Linked DNA regions of Homo sapiens: region 1 is linked to region 2. Evidence: fine-mapped expression QTL. A gene starts in region 2. The other region holds a variant in brackets. All regions are shown on one strand. Distances are between the middles of the regions.

Region 1 (10,503 bases), 28 kb after region 2:
TGCCTTGGCCTCCCAAAGTGCTGGGATTACAGGCGTGAGCCACTGCGCCCGGCCAGACTTGAGTTTGATGGCTCACTCTTTGGGCAAGCTTCCCTGGGCTTTTCTTCCTTGCACATACCTCTGCTATTAGTCAAGCCTACGTCAGTCTCCCTTCACCTGTAAGGGATATGACGACCAGAAGACTCACCAGGCTGATACCCTGACAGTCCTGGCCTCTGGGAAACGTTTACCCACCCTCGTTAGACAAGTACGAGGGAATGAACCCAATATGAGCTCCTGCTGGGAGCTGAAAGACCCCCCACCACCCAGGGAATAGTCAACTACCCTGTAAGCACTGCCCCGCTACCCTTTTTTTTTTTTTTTTTTTCTGAGACGGAGTCTGTCTCTAGTCCAGGCTGGAGTACACTGTAGCCACTACCTCCGAGGTTTAAGCGATTCTCTTGCCTCAGCCTCCCAAGTAGATGGGATTACGGGTACCCACCACCACACCAGGCTAGTTTTTGTATTTGTAGTAGAGATGGGGTTTCCCCATGTTGGCCAGGCTTGTCTTGAACTCCTGGCCTCAAGTGATCCACCTGCCTTGGCCTCACAAAGTGCTGGGATTATTGGCATGAGCCACCGTACCTGGCCAAGCCTTCTCATTTTAGACTGACATTCCATCCTGCTGCTGGGGCTAGGGGCCATTCTGACAGAGCCAGGGCTCAGTCTAGCCTTGGCCCGTCCCCAGGTCAGTTTCCCTTCATATTTCAGGCAGGGCTAAAATTCCTCCCTGCTCAACCTCGGGCAGAGCATGGCAATTCTGCCACCTTCCAGCAGAAGCCTCAGAGCCACAAGCCTCAGTCACCACCTAGTGGCCAAGTACACCAGCAGAGAAACTTGAAACCATGTAAATTCAGACTTTTAGAAACAAGCCAGTTTAGCAGTTGTCCAGCTGCCCATCTTAGCCACCTGCCCTGCAAGTAAGAAGCTTCCAAGGCCCTGTTGTCTATTCCACAAAGGAAATGTACTTTCATCCTTAGCTTTTTCCTAGTATGTTTTTCTGGTGCTAACTGGAGTCTAAGATCCCAGGGCAGTTCCCCTATAGCGGCCTTTTAGAAGCAGGGTCTAGGCTGGGCGTGGTGGCTCATGCCTGTAATCCCAGCACTTTGGGAGGCTGAGGTCAGTGGATCACCTGAGGTCAGGAGTTTGAGACCAGCCTGGCCAACATGGTGAAACCCCATCTCTACTAAAAAAAAAAAAAAAAATACAGAAATTAGCTGGGCATGGTGGCAGGTGCCTATAATCCCAGCTACTTGGGAGGCTGGAATGGAAGAATTGCTTGAACCTGGGAGATGGGAAGTTGCAGTGAGCTGAGATTACGCCATTGCACTCTAGCCTGGGCAACAAGAGTGACACTCCATTTCCCCCCAAAAAAAAACAAAAAAAAAAAAAAAAAGAGGGGAGTGTGATAGCTCATGCCTGTAATCCCAGCACTTGCTGAGGCAGGTGGATCACCTGAGGTCAGGAGTTTAAGACCAGCCTGACCAACATAGTGAAACCCCATCTCTACTAAATATTCAAAAATTAGCCAGGCGTGGTGATTGAGTGCCTATAATTCCAACTATTAGGGAGGCTGAGGCAGGAGAATGGCTTGAATAAGGAGGTGGAGGTTGCAGTGAACCGAGATCATGCCATTGCATTCCAGCCTGGGTGACAGAGCGAGACTCTGTCCAAAAAAAAAAAAAAAAAAAAAAAGTACACAGGGTCTTGCTCTGTTGAGGGCAATAGCACCATCATAGCTCACTGCAGCCTTAAACACCTGAACTCTGATCCTCCCACCTCGGCCTCCCAAGGTGCTGGGATTACAGATGTGAACCACCGTGCCCAGCCACCCTATTGCTCTGAAATAGGGTTGTTCCTTCTTTGTGCCATGGGACATAGTCTACTGAGGCATCATCAATCCTACCTTTGAAGGGGGGCCCTCCAAGGGCTCAGACTATCTTCCATTAAACAGCACTGTTCTCTGGTCTTAGTTACCCCTCAACCCCCAGAGATTGAGAAACCACCTCAGTCCATACCCATGCTGACCGCTACCACCTCTGTGAAAACTTCTCTCCATCTTCTTCCCAAATGGCCACACCTGAGGTCAATCTTGACTTCCTCCCACAACCAGGATCCTCTCCCCTAAGGAGCTATCGGTCACTGATCCGAGGGCCAGGACTCTTTTCCCAAATCTGCCCTCCTTTATCCCCAGCCCCACTGAAGCAGGGCCCACCACTGAGAGCTTCAGGCCATCTCATCAATATTAGATGCTTTTCCCTTTTGCTACCCTACTGATCTGTGTGTTGATCTTTCTCTTCCCACAAGGCAGCTGCTGGAGGAGGTGAAGTGGCATCGATGTCATCTTTGAAAAGTTTCTACTTTGTCCCTTAATGCCACCCTGACGTATGAGCCTCTGCTTCAGAGGTTTGCAAGCCTGGCTGCGTATTAGAGTCACCTAGGAGCTTAAGTGGCTTTTGATGCATTTCCAAGTAGAATAAGGTAGGTCAGTAGATGGAGGATAACAGTAAAATGCTAGCAGGCCGGGTACAGTGGCTCACGCCTGTAATCCCAGCACTTTGGGAGGCCAAGGCAGGTGGATCGTTTGAGGTCGGGTATTCAAGACCAGCCTGGCCAATATGGTGAAACCATCTCTACTAAAAATATAACAGGCACTCAGTAGTGGCGTATGCCTACAATCTCAGCTACTTGGGAGGCTAAGGCAGGAGAATCGCTTGAGCCTGGGAGGTGGAAGTTGCAGTGACCTAAGATTGGGCCACTGTACTCCAGCCTGGGTGACAGAGACCCTCTCAAAAAAAAAAAAAAAAAAAAAAAAAAAAAAAAAAAAAAAAAAAAAGGGGGCGGGGGGCGCGTGGTGGTTCATGCCTATAATCCCAGCACTTTGGGAAGCTGAGGCGGTTGGATAATGAGGTCAAGAGTTCAAGACCAGCCTGGCCAAAATGATGAATCCCTGTCTCTACTAAGAAATACAAGGATTAGCCGGGCATGGTGGCAGGCGCCTACAATCCCAGCTACTCAGGAGGCTGAGGCAGAATTGCTTGCACCCGGAGGCAGAGGTTGCAGTGAGCCAAGACCGCACCATTGCATTCCAGCTTGGGTGACAGAGTGAGACTGTCTCAAAAAAAAAAAAAAAATGCTGGTGGTAGAACCTAGATGGTGTGCACACTGAAGTTCATGGAGTTTTACAGCAAACACCTATGAAGATTTAGTTAATGTTACAAAATGTGACACCATGCCCTACCCCAATAGAGTGAAGGTATGAGACTCTCTACAATCAGTATTTTTACAACCTCTCCAGATGATTAGTATAGAGCCAGCACTGGAAACCCCTACTTTAATCACTTCCTAACCACCTATTCTAAGCTCACCGCCTCACCTCTCATCTCAGTGAGCTTGTTTAAAAGCTACTTGAGGCTGGGCATGGTGGCTCACGCCTGTAATTCCAGCACTTTGGGAGACCGAGGCAGGCGGATCACCTGAGGTCAGGAGTTTGGGACCAGCCTGGACAACATGGTAAAACCTTGTCTCTACTAGAAATACAAAAAAATTAGCCAGGCATGGTGGCGGGTACCTGTACTCCCAGCTACTTGGGAGACTGAGGCAGGAGAATCACTTGCACCTGGGAACCTGGAGTGGCTGGGACTACAGGTGCCCACCATCATGCCCAGCTAATTTTTTGTATTTTTAGTAGAGGGGGTTTCACCGTGTTAACCAGGATGGTCTCAATCTCCTGACCTCGTGATCTGCCCGCCTCAGCCTCCCAAAGTGCTGGGATTATGGGCACGAGCCACCGCACCAGGCAATTTACTTCTAACCACTTACCAGTACTTCCCGGCTAGATGTTGGTCCTTGCACCTGCACTTCCTACTGCATCCCTCCCCCACCTCAGCCATTAGGCAGTTCCCATCTTCATTCCTTCCTTCTCCTTCCCTCTTAGTGTCAATTTGAGTTTTCTAGTTTAGGTTCTCAAGGGGAGGACCCAGACTGGCAGAACCAACACTTAAGAATGCAGATTCTAGGCTTCACTAGACCACCTGAATCAAACCCTGGGTTGGGGCCCAGTCATCAATTTCAACAAGCCCTCCAGCTGAGGATGATGCCTTCAGAATCACTAGCCTAACCTATGACCAAGTTCAAGAAGCCACCCTGGCTACGAAGTTCACACTGGTTTTCTTTGCCCCTGCAGAAAGCCTCCAGGAAGGCTAACACCTGCCTTTTTTTTTTTTTTTGGAGATGGAGTCTCACTGTCACTCAGGCTGGAGGTGCAGTGGCACAATCTCTGCTCACTGCAACCTCTGCCTCCCAGGTTCAAGCTATTCTCCTGCTTCAGCCTCCCAGGTAGCTGGGATTACAGGTACCCAACCACCACACTCAGCTAATTTTTTTTGTATATTTAGTAGAGTCGGGGTTTTACTATGTTGGCCAGGCTGGTCTTGAACTCCTGACCTCAAGTGATCCACCCCCCTCGGCCTCCCAAAGTATTGGGATTACAAGCATGAGCCACCGTGCCCGGCCTCTACCTCTTAAGGCTTCATATTGTTCATCCTTCTGCTTGAAGGCCTCGCTAAAGCTCATGGCTTTACTTGTAAGTTTGAGTTACTGGGACACAGCTCTAAGTCATTTGCTTAGGGGTGGAGCTAGTGAGTGACCCCATTCAGTAGGATATGAAGGTTGCAAGTTCAGCCTTCTTTCAGGCTGTTAAAGCTCTTACCATGTTTCTGGAGTCATTAGCAAAGTGGAAGACATCCACTGTGAACTGGAGTGTATCTGGCCCGGGTCGAGGAACTTTGAATGCAGAAGAGGCATCAGTGAGACCGTCGACAAGACAGCTTGGAAGAAAACAGAACGGTATTAAAGCCAGACAGGTGGGCCGGGCACCGTGGCTCACGCCCATAATCCCAGCACTTTGGGAGGCCAAGGTGGGTGGATCACTTGAGGTCAGGAGTTCGAGACTAGCCTGGCAAACATGGTGAAACCTTGTCTCTACTAAAAATACAAAAATTAGCCAGGCATGGTGATGGGCACCTGTAATCTCAGCTACTTGGGGGGCTGAGGCAGGAGAATCACTTAAACCTGGGAGGCAGAGGTTGCAGAGGGCAGAGATCAAGCCTCTGTATTCCAGCCTGGGTTACAGAGTGACACTGTCTCAAAAAGCCAAACAGGTGGCTTTAGGGTCATTTTGCTAGGAAGGTTCTCTAGGCAGGGAGCCCAGTGCTCACCCATGGAAGTCCACGATGGTGTGATAAGGGGAGGCATTCTGGTCTGGTGTCGGTGTGGCCACGCAGTGGTCCACAAACAACCGCAGTGGCACGTGGCTGCCAGTGTGGATTTCTGCCTGGAGGTGGGCTGCATCTCCCAGGTGGAAGGTGGGGGACCTCTTCTCAGCGTTCCAGTTCTCTGAAAGACACAGTCAGCTGGGCATGGTGGCTCATGCCTGTAATCCCAGCACCTTGGGAGGCTGAGGCAGGTGGATCACCTGAGGTCAGGAGTTCGAGACCAGCCTAGCCAACGTGGCAAAACCCCATCTCTACTAAAAATA[G/C]AAAAGTTAGCTGGGTGTGGTGTCAGAAGCCTGTAGTCCCAGTTACTCGGGAGGCTGAGGCAGGAGAATCGTTTGAACCCCAGGAGGTGGAGACTGCAGTGAGCTGAGATCGTGCCACTGCACTCCAGCCTGGAGGTCAGATCAAGACTGTCTCAAAAACCAACCAAAACCAACCAAAACCAACCAAAACCAACCAAAACCAAAACCAAACAAACAAAAAAAAGACACAGCCAAGGGCAGGGGTCTGAGATGGCCCAGGTCTTTCCACAGATGTCCCACCCAGCCTTCTTCTCTTACCCTCCATCAGACGCAGAGAGAAAGTCAGCTTCTCCTCTGAGAACACCGTGGTCCTGAAGGGCAACCAGGTGGGCAGGATGGCCTGGCTGCTCACATTGCCCTGCCTGAGAGAAGAACAGCAGCTGTGCACACCTGCCTCAGGTCACACCCACCTGGGCCCCCACTGATGGGGAGTATCTCACTGCTACCCCACTACAGGGTCCTCAGCTATGGCCCAGCCAGGTAGCTGGTGCGAGATGGCTGAACAGACACCTTGAGCCTGAGGCTGCCCCTGCACCCTCCTGAACTTCTGCACCTGTGAGTGGCCTAGCCATCCTAACTGATGCTATGATGCTATCTGGGCCGCTGAAGACAGATACAGCTGAACCTAGGAGTTTGGTTTCTAGACTGAGATCTGCTCCCTCTTGAGCCCTGGACCTGAGTGCGGTGGCTCATGCCTGTAATCCCAGCACTTTGGGAGGTGGAGACTGGAGGATTGCCTGAGGCTAGGAGTTTGAGAGCAGCCTGGACAACATAGCAAGACTCTATCTCTATAAAAAAGAAAAGAGGCCAGGCACGGTGGCTCAAGCCTATAATCCCAGCAGTTTGAGAGGCCGAGGCGGGCGGATCATGAGGTCAGGAGATCGAGACCATCCTGGCTAACATGGTGAAACCCCATCTCCACTAAAAATAAAATTATCCGGGCATGGTGGCGGGCGCCTTTAGTCCCAGCTACTTGGGAGGCTGAGGCAGGAGAATGGCGTGAACCTCGGAGGTGGAGTTTGCAGTGAGCTGAGATCACACCACTGCACTCCAGCCTGGGCAACAGAGCAAGACTCCATCTCAAAAAAAAAAGAAAAGAAAAGAAAAGATAGCTGGGCATAGTAGTACATACCAGCTACTCAGGAGGCTGAGATGGGAGGATTGCTTGAGCCCAGGAGGTCAAGGCTGCAGTGAACTATGATGGCACCCCACTGCACTCCAGCCTGGGCGGCAGAGTAAGACTTTTTTTTTTTAAACAAAAAACCAAAAGCCACCACACATACTTTAGCCCTAGAGGTTCAGGTTTGGGGTCTGATAGCAGGCCCTGCACAGTACTCCACAGGATGCTTGAGAGGGGAATCAGCTAAGGCCATCTTTTTTTTTTTTTTTTGAGACGGAGTCTCACTTTGTCTCCCAGGCTGGAGTACAGTGGCACGATCTCGGCTCACTGCAAGCTCCACCACCCAGGTTCACGCCATTCTCCTGCCTCAGCCTCCCAAATAGCTGGGACTACAGGCACCCGCCACTAGGCCTGGCTAATTTTTTGTATTTTTAGTAGAGACGGGGTTTCACCACGTTAGCCAGGATGGTCTCCATCTCCTGACCTCATGATCCGCCCGCCTCGGCCTCCCAAAGTGCTGGGATTATAGGCGTGAGCCACCATGCCCAGCCAAGGCCATCCTTTAGAGATCAAAGACAGGCCCTTAGGTCTTGAGATGCTACCGAGAGCCTGGACCCACACCAGTGACTGGGAAGTCCATGGAAGCAGGTCTGGGTATCTGCAGATACCTACCCTGCTAACCCCATAGGATCTGCTGGAAGAAGCTACTCCAAGTGATGGATGCATCTATTGATAACCAGACTCAGGTATCTGGAGCCAGGTTAAAGCATCCCAGCCTACAACCAGCCTCTCTAATACTACCTACAGCCAATGGACCAGGTGAGCCACCATCCTCAGGGGTCAGGCCCAGAGACTGAAGTCAGACTTCCACGGTCACAGGACAGCTTCAGTCCCTCATGCCGACTGGGCAGCCTGCCCTTGACTCCTCTATCCTCCTCCATCTCCCCTACCCACATAGGCACCAAGCTCCTCCAACTGCTCTTAGCTCCTGCGAGTCAGCCTCTACGGTCCCTGCAACCATGGGTCAGGCCTCATTGAATCCCAGTTTTCCAGCCTCCCAGCTGGTTCTCACTAGTTCCCATTTGTCTTCAGCACCAGCCACCAGGTGACCCTGGGTGGAGATTCAGTCCTCACCCATTCCAGGAGGGGCACCTGTGGTGAGGCTGGTGAGCCCATCTGTCTGGCTCCCTCATTACCCCAGTCCCTGGGCTCCAGCCCCCAGGCTGCATGTCACCTACTAAGGGCACACTACCCTCCCGTTGGGTGTGTGGCCACATGGCTCTGCCCAGGCCATCTCAGCCTCAAGGTCCCCCACTCCAGGATCCTGTTCTAGGATAACCCCTACCATGACCCCTCCCAGGGGCATGGCTCATCCCTCATGATGTCCTGACTGGTATCAGCTCCCTACCCACTTCACACTAGCATTTTCTTTTTGAGATGGAGTCTTGCTCTGTTGCCCAGGCTGGAGTGCAATGGTGCCATCTCAGCTCACTGCAACCTCTGCATCCTGGGTTCAAATGATTCTCCTGCCTCAGCCTCCTGAGTAGCTGAGATTACAGGCACGCGCTACCACACTCGGCTAATTTTTTTGTGTTTTTAGTAGAGATGGGTTTCACCATGTTGGCCAGGCTGGTCCTGAACTCCTTACCTCGTGAGCTGCCCACCTTGGCCTCCCAAAGGGCTGGTATTACAGGCGTGAGCCACCATACCTGGCCGCATCATCTTATACCCACTCCCAGACTGGTTCAAGGGCAGGGACAAAGTCCCCTGCACCCCATGCTGAGGCCAGCACAGGACCCAGTGTTGTCCTTGGGAGCCATAGTTTCTCCTCCCACTTCAGGGCCTGAGTTCACAGGCACGTGCTTGATGCCAGGGGCTTGAGGACCACAGAAGAGTAGGCCACCACCGCCCAGGTCAGATTCTAGAACGCAGCCTAGCACTATTTTATTATTATTTTTTGCGATGGAGTATCGCTTTGTTGCCCAGAATGGAGTACAGCAGTGCAATCTCGGCTCACTGCAGCCTCTGCCTCCTGGGTTCAAGCAATTCTCCTGCCTCAGCCTCCCAAGTAGCTGGGATTATAGACACCCGGCTAATTTCTGTGTTTTTAGTAGAGATGGGGTTTCACCATGTAGGCCAGACTGGTCTTGAACTCCTTGACCTCAAGCGATCCACCTGTCAGCCTCCCAAAGTGCTAGGATTACAGGATGAGCCACTGCACCTGGCCCCAGCCTAGCACTATTGGAAGGCCATTTCTGAACCCTAAGGGCCGAGGCTGGCATAGTACCACCACCAGGGCTGAGCAGCTCTGAAGCTTCCGCTAAGCTGCAGTTGGGCTCCTGATACTCTTCTGGGGCTCGAACTAGACTCAGCAGGCCCCACAATCCCACGCAGTACAGTAACCACAGCTGCAAATGCTTCGGTAGGTAGTTCTAATAGCCATGCTGCAAGCTGTAGCCCATAGCCAGCCCACTTGCCTGCAGCCACACCCAAGGGGCTTTTGCACCAGGGGCCATGAGTCAGTCCCACACCGACCTGGGGTAGCGGCACTCGATGGGAATCTCTGCGCGGTTAGTCCTCACGATGGACAGGTTTCCCACGGGGCGGGGGTCATGGAGCAGGAAGGTGCTGTACACCAGGGCATCGTCAGTTACCTGGAGGAAAGGTGAGAAGTTAATGCTGCCGGCCATCACCTGCCCGGGTACTCCCAAGCCATACCTGAGTGCTCAGGGAGGGCAGCCCACAAGGGGACAGAAAGACCACAGGGTCAAGGCCAGGTGCAGTGACTCATGCCTGTAACCCCAGCACTTTGGGAGGCCAAGGATTGCTTGAGGCCAGGAGTTTGAGACTGGCCTGGGAAACATAGCAAGACCCCATCTCTACAAAAGAGAACACAGGCTCTGCCACTGGTCAGGAAAGAGGCAGGACAGGTACTGTCTTTGTACCTCGGAATCTTTACCTGACACCACATATTGACACCACCACAGGCAGACTGGATCAACCACATGGCAGATACCATGTAACACCCAAGCAATAGAGGCATCAGGGCACATGACACATCCCTTCTGACACTCCCCCTCCATGCCCCCCAGTACATACAGTTTCCTCTTTCAGGAGAGGCCCAGGGCCAAGATAGCCGCCAGGAAGCAGTCAGGAAGTGCCCAGCTGTTAACACTTATCAGCTTCTGGCTGGGCGCTGTGGCTCACGCCCGTAATCCCAGCACTTTGGGAGGCTGAGGAGGGCAGATCATCTGAGGTCAGGAGTTTGAGACCAGCCTGACCAACATGGTGAAACCCCATCTCTACTTAAAAAAAAAAAATTAGCTGAGTGTGGTGGCACGTGCCTGTAATCCCAGCTACTCGGGAGACTGAGGCAGAAGAATCGCTTGAACCCGGGAGGCAGAGGTTGCAGTGAGCGGAGATCGTGCCATTGCATTCTAGCCTGGGCAACAAGAGCAAAACTCTCAAAAACAAAAACAAACAAAAAACACAACAACCCACATCAGCTTCTAACCTATTCAAGCCCATTTCACATAAGGTGGGGGAGACTGATTCAGAGGTTGCCTGAGGCAGGAAGAGCACAGGTGAGTACTACTGGGGAAATTTGCATCGTCCAATAGGGCTGCAGAAGGCAGGGCCTGCCTGGGAGAGAGTTTTATAGCAAACACCTAAGTTCGAAGATTTTGCTAGAATATTAGAAAAATGTGACGCTAGGCCCTACCCCAGTAGAGTGAAGGTATGAGATTCTCTTGAGAATCAGTATTTT
Region 2 (10,503 bases):
AACCCGGGAGGTGGAGGTTGCAGTGAGCCGAGATCGTGCCATTGCACTCCAGCCTAGGCAATAAGAGTGAAACTCTGCCTCAAAGAAAAAAAAAAAAGAGACAGAGAAACAAAGAAATACACATGTAAGATAAAACTAAGAAAAAAATGAAAGAAAGGAGATAATGATTACCTCAGGGTAAGAACAGAAAACAAGTTCAAATGAAATGATTAGATGTTCTAAGGGGACCTGATAAAGTAGAAAACTTTTTAAAGTTTTTTAAAATTAAAAAAAAAAGATTAGATATATACTTTTGTTTCATGATCCCAGCTTTTGTTTTGGGTGCCTAGATTGCCAGAGCTTACTACATTTATTAAAAATAACTTACTAAATAAGGAAAAGTAGGTCAGGCATGAACACTGAGGAGTGTGTACTAATCAATCTTGTTCTCAGCTTAGCTGATAAGGCAAACACCAAAGAGACTGCTGAATTCATCTTTGTACTCCAAGTGCCAAACACAAGCCTCGGCGCACAGAATTTCGGGAGGCATTTGGGGAATGAATCAGGGCTCTTCTCTCTAGCCCATGGCCTCATTTCCTGTTGGCCTCTTAATACCTTCAACACGTCTGAGGCCAAACGCATCTTCCTTCCTCATTCTCCTTTTCCCCCTGGATTTCCCCCAGGCGGCCAAGAGAAAAACCTCAGATTCTCAGTCCTCCGCAGCCCGCTCCCCCAGGCCTAGCAGCTGCCTGCCCTGCTCTCTCCTCACCTCTGAAGCCCCCTGCTAACACCTGGCCGGGACCCTTATGCCTCTCACTTTACCCCCTCCCTGCCGGGCGCAGTGGCTCACGCCTGTAATCCCAGCACTTTGGGAGGCCTCGGTGGGTGCATCACCTGAGGTCAGGAGTTCGACACCAGCCTGGCCAACAGAGGGAAACCCCGTCTCTACTAAAAATACAAAAATTAGCCAGGCATGGTGGCAGGTGCTTGTAGTCCTAGCTACTTGGGAAGCTGAGGCAGGAGAATCACTTGAACCCGGGAGGTGGAGGTTGCAGTGAGCCAGGATGGCGCCACTGCACTCCAGCCTGGGTAACAGAGCGAGACTCCATCTCAAAAAAACAAAACAAAACAAAAAAACAAATAAGTGCTCCCTCCCAAACAGCTTCTCCAACTCTGCTTTCTAACCCTCTTGTACATCTCAGATGGGGGGGCAGAAAAGATTAAGCTTCCTGAACTAACGTTCTGATCTTGTCTTTTACACACCTCCCCTGGATCTCTAGAATGAAATTCAAATTCCTTAGGCTGACAGTCAAAGCCGATCACAATACCGCCCTTCCCTCGCTATCAACAATATTTGCCGGTGCCCTTCCCTTCCATCCCCTCATCTATACCTCCCTCTCCACAATTCCCTTCCAGAGTGTAAATGAGGATCCACTACTCCCATGTGCATCAGCGTGTCTGTCCCCACCCCCATGACTCTGCTTCACCCTGAATCCCACCCACTTGGTCCCCTGTCCTCACCTTACCCACCCTTTTATGGCCCAATTTAAACAGCACTTCCCACGATGCCTGGATGTGCCCAGCAGAAAGCAAACACCCTCTAAATCAGCCAGGCATGATGGTGTGCACCTGTAAGTCCAGCTACTCGGGAAGCTGAGGCACAAGAACCTCTTGAGCCTGGGAGGTGAAGTTGAGCAGTGAGCTGAGATTGCACCACCGCTCTCCAGCCTGGGTGACAGAGTAAGACCCTGTCTCAAAAAGTAAACAAACAAAACAAAACAACAACAACAAAAAGAATGAAAGAAAACACCCTCTTAGCAAGTTCCTTTTCAGTTCTCTATGTTCACTTTATCTCTTCAACTAGACTATAAGCAACTGAGGGCAAAACCACTCACCTGCCTCTCCCCACGAAGAAGCTGGCATGATGTATGTAAGAAGACCGCCACAAAGCGAATAATCCAGTCTAAACCCATTCCACATGTTCCAGTGTGCTCCATTAAAATGTCCCTCACGAGGCCAGGCACGGTGGCTCAGGCCTGTAATCCTAGCACTTTGGGAGGCTGAGATGGGAGGATCCCTTGAGGCCAGGAGTTAGAGACCAGCCTGGACAACGTAGAGCGGCACTGTCTCTAGATAAAATTATTAGTCGGGTATGGTGGTAGGCACCTCAGCTACCCCAGAGCCCAGGAATTTGAGGCTGTGGTGAACTATGATCACTCCACTGCACTCCAGCCTGGGCAGCAGAAGCAGACCCCAACTCAAAAAAATAATTAATAAAATGACCCTCATAGAAATCTCCTAAAATCCTTCCACTCCCGAGTCTTGGCATGGCCCACATAACCCTCCTCGCTCAGAGCCCTCTGCCTGCTTTTCCAGCCTCCTCTATTACATACTAAGCTACTTACAGTAGCCCAGCTGTGTCCCGGTAGCTTCATGACTTTGCAAACGCTGACTCCTCTCCCAGGTGACTGTGCCCCACTTTCTAAGTCCTACTCCTCCTTCACAACCCCCCTCAACTACCACCTTCCAGGAGCCTTCCTGACCTTCCCTCTAACCGTCCCCTTTCTGGATGTGGGTAGGAGAGCCTTGTGATTTCTCCCAGCTCAGTATATATCACACTGACAACACCTTGTCACTGACTCTGCTTTGTCTTTTCCACCAAACAATGCACTCCCAAAAGACAGAGATCTTATCTGGCACCCAGTAAGGGTTTATGCAACAAAAGAAATGAAAACTGCCACTTCAAATGCAGAAATCGTGACTTGTGTCTTCTATCCCATAAAGCATGTCTTAAAGTGGAAAGCATCTTCTAAGACTAGTTAGTTAAACAGGAGAAGCAGTGGCAAGACGCCACTGCAATTTATTTGAGACAGGTGGCAATCAACAGTCAACTCCCAGGGCACACGTTTATCCTGCAGACCTCAAATTCCACCCTCCCCAATCCCCACCTTCTCTGCACCAGATAGAGAAGGCAGCAAGGTCAAGTCCCCATGGCTCTCACCTTTTCTCTCTGGAGAGCTGGCACAAACTGTCCCTTCTGGATGAAGACACCAGCTCCTTAGGAGGAATGACTTGTTTGAGTTCCCATCTTGATACAAACCACAAACAACAAAAACCGGGCAAATCTGAAAGGCTTGCTGACTCAGCGACACAAATTCCAAGGCACCTTTGCCAACGAGGAAGAAGATGATCAGGTTTTAAATTAAGAAACAGCAGTTAGTAAAAACAAAGGTACAGATGTTGGATCCGTGTGCTGTGCCTGGGGACTGAAAATCACCAGATTTATTTTCCAATAGCCTGGGTGGAGCAGGAGGTACAACAGTCTTCCTCCACCCACTTAACAATCAAGGAGATGGTTGAAGAAACAACAAAAAGCAAACAAACAAAAAAACCCTGAGCTCTTTTTAAAATTTTTTATTATTATTAGTTTTTGGAGACGGAGTCTTGCTCTGTCACCCAAGCTGGAGTGCAGTGGCGTGATCTCGGCTCACTGCAGCCTCCGCCTCCCAGGTTCAAGCTACTCTCCTGCCTCAGCTTCCCGAGTAGCTGGGATTATAGGCTCGAGTCACCACGCCTGGCTCTGAGCCCTTTTCTTAAAAAAAAAAAAAAGTTCGTTTTTTTAGTTTGTTTGTTTTTTGTTTTTTGAGACGGGGTCTCCCTCTGTCGCCCATGCTGCAGTGCAGTGGTGTGATCACAGCTCACTGCAGCCTCCAACTCCTGGGCTCAAGCGATCCTCCTGCCTCAGCCTCCCAAGTAGCTGGGACTACAGGCACCCACCAACACGCCCATCTGATTTTTTATAGAGACAGTGATCTCAGGAATCCTCTTCGTTTCCCAGGCTTGTCTCAAATTCCTGGACTCAAATGATCCTTCCACCTCGGCCTCCCAAAGGGCTGGGATTACAGGCATGAGCCACCGTGCCTGGCCTGAGCCCTTTTACAGAAAACTCTAAAAGGACTTCATAAGCCAGTCTGGCAGCTAAGCATCCAGGAAATCAACACACCAGAGAGGGTAAATATTTAAGGTCACAGAGCAACCGAATCAGAGGGCTTGCTATCCGGATGGCTTAAGCCCGGATGGTGGCTACCAGAAAGTCTACCTTCTAGAGCGCTAGAGGAGCTAGGAAGGCATGCAGAAATATTCTGAGTTTCTCAAGGGTCCAGGCGTCTGTACACATGCTATTTATTTCCATCGCTGTTGGCGCTTAGAGAAGTGGAGCCAGCTTGGAGGAGGAGGGCAGCTGGCTGAGACAGTCGCGATGAAAGCGCAGCTCCAGAAAAGGGAACCGAGTTCTAAATCTTTTTCGGCACCCCTTACGCACCCCAAAAAGTGACCCAGGGCCCCAGGAACTCCTGGGAAGACCCCCCACAGGAAAGCAGGGAAGCAGAGTTAGGAAGCAAACTCCTCCAAAGTACAACCCCCGGCCCAGTGAGTCCCTTCACCTGGGGGTAGACCCCAGCAGGACCAACCCCTCGTCAGGGAGCCGGTGGCAATCTCGTCACCCCCTCCTCTGGGTACTTTGGGAAGGGGTGCGCGCCTTCCGAGCGACCCGGAACCGCGCCCCTCCGCCTGCGAGCCCCTCAGCCTTCATCCGAACGTCCCCTTTCGCACCCGGCACCCTGTCCCGTCCAAAGCTGCCGGCGCCTCCCAAGTCCCCCAACTCTCGCCCTCAGGACCTTGATCCCGGAGACCGATCCCCCCGACACCCCCGATCTCCCGGGACCCCCGGGTGTCCCCGCCGCCCCGGCCGTCGGTCCCCCTCACACCCACGCCCGCCCCCTTCCGGTCCCAGCTAGGCTCCGGCTCCCCGCGCCACCCCGCGCCCCTGGGACCGCAGCCCTAGCGACGCGCAGGTGGCCTTCCCGCCCTCTCACCGAGGCTGAGGAGGACAAGAGGACGGGGCTGAGGGCACCACCGCGCTCGGGCTGCAGCTCCGGCTCGGCCTGGGCAGGGCTCTGGCTGTGGCTCCGACTCTCAGGAGAAGGCAGCCAGAGTGAAACTCGGCGTCGCAGCTTCCGAGCGAGCCGCTGCGCATGCCCGGGGCGTGCGGCCTTCTGGGAAATGTAGTCCCGGTAGGGCCCAGGGGCGGGCAGAAGGCGGGGCTCAGCGGGGAAGGGCTCAACCCAAGGCGCACCTGCTCCGGTCTATGTTTTCTTCCTTCGCCTGCTCACTCATTGACTTATTCCTTCATTAATTACTGACTTAATTTTAACTAGTTTTTACTAGTACATACATGGTGCCAGTACATACATGTGCTACTGTTTCTCTTTTTTTGTTTTTAAAATTAATTTTATTTTTCTTTTTTGTACAGATGGGGGTTTTGCAATGCTGCAACGTTGCTCAGGCCGATCTCAAACTCCTGGCCTCAAGCGATCCTCTTGCTTCATTCAGCCTCCCAAAGCACTGGGGTTGCAAGTGTGAGCCATCGAGCACAACCTTTTTAAATTTAAATTTTTGTCTTTTTCTTTTCTTTTTTTCTCTCTTTCTTTCCTATTTATTTTTAATATTTATTTATTTATTTAGCTACTGTGTAGTGGGAGTGCGGGAGTGAATAGGTGAATCAGAAATGGTTTCTTGGCTGGGCGCAGTGGCTCATGCCTGTAATCCCTGCACTTTGAGAGGCAGAGGTGGGCGGATCACCTGAGGTCGGGAGTTCCAGACCAGCCTGGCCATCATGGCGAAACCCCGTCTCTACTAAAAATACCAAAAAAAACTAGCCGGGCGTGGTGGCTCGTGCCTGTAATCCCAGCTACTCGGGAGGCTGAGGCAAGAGAATCGCTTGAACCCGGGAGGCAGAGGCTGTAGTGAGCCAAGATCGCGCCATTGCACTCCAGCCTGGGCGACGGAACAGGAATCCCTCTCAAAAGAAAAAAAAAAAAAGACGAAGAAGAAGAAAAAAGAAAAAGAAAAGGTTTCTCGCCGGGAGCGGTGGCTCACGCCTGTAATCCCAGCACTTTGGGAGGCCGAGGCAGCCAGATCACAAGGTCAAGAGATTGAGACCATCCTGGCCAACATGGTGAAACCCCGTCTCTACTAAAAATACAAAAATTAACTGGGTGTGGAGGCCGGGCGCAGTGGCTCACGCCTGTAATCCCAGCACTCTGGGAGGCCGAGGCGGGCGGATCACGAGGGCAGGAGATCGAGACCACGGTGAAACCCCGTCTCTACTAAAAATACAAAAAAAAAAAAAAATTAAGCGGGCGTAGTGGTGGGCTCCTGTAGTCCCAGCTACTCGGGAGGCTGAGGCAGGAGAATGGCGTGAACCCGGGAGGCGGAGCTTGCAGTGAGCCGAGATTGTGCCACTGCACTCCAGCCTGGGTGACAGAGCGAGACTCCGTCTCAAAAAAAAAAAAAAATAATAATAATAATAATAATTAACTGGGTGTGGTGGCGCGTGCCTGTAATCCCAGCTACTTGGAAGACTGAGGCAAGAGAATCACTTGAACCCTGGAGGTGGAGGTTGCACTGAGCCAAGATTGTGCCACTGCACTCCAGCCTGGACGACACAGTGGGAATCTGTCTCAAAAAAAAAAAAAAAAAAAAGAAAGAAAAGAAAAGAAAAGAAAGAAAGAAGAAAAGAAAAGGATTTCTTTCCTGGGAAAGCTTTGTATCTAGTTGGAAAGTCCGGCACTTAAACACACAATTACGATATAGTGGGGAAAATGTTTGGATAAAGGAGGGCATAGAAGGGTATGCCTAACTTGAGGGTGGGGAGAAGACATCACAAGACAGATAAAGGCTATGTGGGTTTTTCAGTCCATAGAGAAATTTGCCAGTTGGAGCATAGGGAAGCTCTTGTAAAGCAAGAGAGATGTGAAAGTGCCTCATGCACTCCGGAGGCAGCACAAAGTTCCTGGTGGCCAGGGCAGAGGACACATGGAGGGAAGGGAGTGAGGAAGGAGAAAATGCACTAGGCTATAGCAGGATCTGAGGAGTGTGGGGAGAAGCCGGGGTAAGATTATGATGAATTTTAGATAATGTGAGTGTTTGCACATGTGTGCACATACTATGTATGTTGAATATTATGTATACAGTTTCAGGGGGATCAAGGTCCTCTGAATCTTGGAGGACCAAGTACCCAGTTAAAGATACTTACCTGGAATGACATTATCCTAAGGTCATTGATCCTTTATCAGGGATTTTTATTTTCCTTTTTTTTTTTTTTGAGACGAGTTTTGCTCTTGTTGTCCAGGCTGGAGTGAAATGGCACAATCTCGGCTCACTGCAACCTCCGCCTCCCAGGTTCAAGTGATTCTCCTGCCTCACCTCCCGAGTAGCTGGGATTACAGGCATGCACCACCACACTCAGCTAATTTTTGTATATATATATATTTTTGAGACGGAGTCTTGCTCTGTCGCCCAGGCTGGAGTGCAATGGCACAATCTCAGCTCACTGCAAACTCCGCCTCCCAGGTTCAAGCAATTCTTCCTCAGCCTGCCGAGTAACTGTGATTACAGGCGGATGCCACCATGCCCAGCTAATTTTTGTATTTTAGTAGAGACAGGGTTTCACCATGTTGGCCAGGCTGGTCTTGAACTCCTGACCTCGTGATCTGCCCACCTCGGTCTCCCAAAGTACTGGGATTACAGATGTGAGCCACCGCATCCGGGCTAATTTTTGTATTTTTAGTAGAGACAGAGTTTCACCATGTCAGCCAGGCTGATCTCAAACTCCTGACCTCAGGTAATCTGCCCACTGCAGCCTTCCAAAGTGCTGGGATTACAGGTGAGGGCCACCGCATCCGGCCAGAGTTCCATTTTTAAAATCTGAAAAGACGGACTATTTTTATTTGGGAAAAATAAAGAGTTCTGGTTGTGAAAAGAAGTAAAATAGGACAGTATCAAGAGGGAGAGTGGGGGGCATGGACTTTTGTATTTTAGACAGGAGAGAGAAGAGTGTGCTGACTTCTGAAATTGCAGCAGGATGTCTGCCCCCTGGGAACCTGGAAATGAGGGAAACAGGCTTGGCCACTTGCAAAGTGAACTTTAAACTAATATACGTAGCAAAGGGCCAGAGACAAAAGAACTGCCTGGTAGGAGGGGGCTGGTTAAATAACCCCGGAACACTAGGTAGCCCTAGAAGGAATGAGGAAGACTCACAGTGGCCTAGATCTATTGTTAAACCAAAAAGGAACTTTGAGCCAGGCAAGGCGGCTCATGCCTATAATCCCAGCACTTTGGGAGGCGGAGGCAGGTGGATCACCTGAGATCAGGAGTTCAAGACCAGTCTGGCCAACATGGTGAAACCTCGTCTCTACTAAAAATACAAAAATTAGCTGGGTGCAGCGGTGCACACCTGTAATCCACCTACTCGGGAGGCTGAGGCAGGAGAATCGCTTGAATCTGGGAGGCAGAGGGTGTAGTGAGCCAAAATTGCACCATTGCACTAGCCTGGGTGACAGACTGAGACTCGGTCTGAAAAAAAGAAAAAAAAGGAACGTTCAAAATAGAGGGTAGAGAATATGAGAATATGCACCCATTTGTGTTTTTTAAACAATTGCATACAATAAACGGGCTTACAGACGAAGAAAGTTTCTGGGAAGAGACCCAAGAAGCCCCAGAAGGTAGGCGGATAAGCTGAAGAATTGTTAAAGATTTTATTTATTTATTTTTTGAGACAGTGTCTCCCAGGCTGGAGTACAGTGGCGTGATCATAGCTCACTGCAGCCTCGACCTCCTGGGTTCAAGTGATCTTCCTGCCTCAGCCTCCTGAGTAGCTGGGACTACAAGCGTGCACCACCATGCCAGGCTGATTTTTGTATTTTCTGTCAAGATAGGGTCTCACCATATTGCCCAAGTTGGTCTCAAACTCCTGGGCTCACACATTCCTCTTGCCTCAGCCTCCTAAAGTGCTGAGATTACAGCCATGAGCCACCACGCCTGACTGAATTTTTAAAGATTTAGAGAGGGCTGTCAGCTGGGCACAGTGGCTCATGCCTCTAATCCCAGCACTTTGGGAGGCCAAGGTGGGAGGATCACATAAGGTCAGGAGTTTGGCCAACATGGGGAAACCCCGTCTCCACTAAAAATACAAAAATTAGCCAGGCGTGGTGGCATGCGCCTGTAATCCCAGCTACTGGGGAGGCTGAGGGAGGAGAATCTCTTGAACCCAGGGGGCAGAGGTTGCAGTGAGCCGAGATCGTGCCATTGCACTCCAGCCTGGGCAACAGAGTGAGACTCTGTCTTTAAAATAAAATAAAATAAAATAAAATAGGGCTCTCTCTTCTCTGGCAGTACCCCCACTCCCCACAACATACACAGTAGGGCAGTTTGCCACTTGCGTTCTTGCATAAAGGTCCACAGCCTAAGGGGCAGTGGCAGGAGCAGCGGCAGGAAATATTCCTGGCAGGGGTTCTTTGTCTGAAATTTTCCGCCTAGAGATGGTGTCTTTTTTTTTTTTTTTTTTTTTGAACTCCTCAAAGGCTGGGGTTTGTTCAACACACCCAAGGGGCCACCAGTGCTCTGAAGCAACTGAAAATGAATGACGTGGCCCAAGAAAGAATGTGACTGTTGGCCACAAAATGGGGAGTGGTGTTGAGCAAAGAAATTTAAACTCTAATACCCATAATCCCAGCACCTGGCTAGGTCCAAGTGGGAGGATCGCTTGAGCTCAGAAGTTTAAGACCAGCTTGGGTGACAAGACAAGACCCCATCTCTACAAAAAATAAAAAAATTAGCTGGGTGTGGTGGGACACCCCTGTGGTCCCAGCTACTTGGGAGACTGAGGCAGGAGGATCACTTGAGCCCAGGGGGTCCAGGCTGCAGTGAGCTATGACGACACCACTGCATTCCAGCCTGGGTGACAGGGTGACATCTTGTCTCTTAAAAAAAAAAAGGGCCGGGTGCGGTGTCTCATGCCTGTAATCCTAGCACTTTGGGAGGCCGAGGCGGGCGGATCACAAGGTCAGGAGATCAAGACCATCCTGGCTAACATGGAGAAACCCCGTCTCTACTAAAAATACAAAAATAAAATAAAATAAAATTAGCCGGGCATGGTGGCGGGCGCCTGTAGTCCCAGCTACTTGGGAGGCTGAGGCAGGAGAATGGCGCGAACCCGGGAGGCAGAGCTTGTAGTGAGCCGAGATTGCACCACTGCACTCCAGCCTGGTGAGACTCTGTCTCAAATAAAAAAAAAAAAAAAAAAGGACAACACGTGGGGGTGGGGTATGGGGTAGAGGGTATTTGCAAACTTTTCAGATGAATGAACGGCGAGCACACGTACCTTATTTTAGATTTGCCACAAGGGAACCAGTGAAAAGGGTGAGCCTTTTCTTTTGTTTTTGAGATGGGGTTTCGCTCTTCTTGCCCAAGCTAGAGTGCAATGGTATGATCCCGGCTCACTGCAACTTCCACCTCCCATATTCAAGTGATTCTCCTGCCTCAGCCTCCCAAGTAGCTGAGACTACAGGCGTGTCCCACCATGCCTGGCTAATTTTTGTATTTTTAGTAGAGATGGGTTTCGCCATGTTGGCCAGGCTGGTCTTGAACTTCTGACCTCAGGTGATCCGCCTGCCTCAGCCTCCC

Direction of the effects. Alleles are on the strand shown, and positions count from the first base shown. SD is a standard deviation of normalised expression in the study named.
As copies of G replace C in region 1, the expression in monocytes after LPS of the gene that starts at base 4,981 in region 2 goes down (large effect, 1.2 SD a copy in Quach 2016).

What was found.
Region 1: its variant is fine-mapped to the expression of DTX2 in monocytes after LPS (Quach 2016, PIP 0.95).

Annotation. Positions count from the first base shown.
Region 1 is chr7:76,428,403-76,438,905 of GRCh38, reverse strand. It overlaps ZP3 (zona pellucida glycoprotein 3), which reads right to left. Exons shown (of 8, transcript NM_001110354.2): 2 at 9,273-9,391; 3 at 5,876-5,979; 4 at 5,259-5,436; 5 at 4,751-4,868. Among named protein-coding and RNA genes, the nearest start is that of ZP3, 8.7 kb to the right of the region's middle. The variant G/C (reference allele first, on the strand shown) is at 5,579.
Region 2 is chr7:76,456,187-76,466,689 of GRCh38, reverse strand. DTX2 (deltex E3 ubiquitin ligase 2) reads right to left here and starts at 4,981. Exons shown (of 11, transcript NM_001102594.3): 1 at 4,854-4,981; 2 at 2,981-3,145. RefSeq lists an enhancer at 9,609-10,482.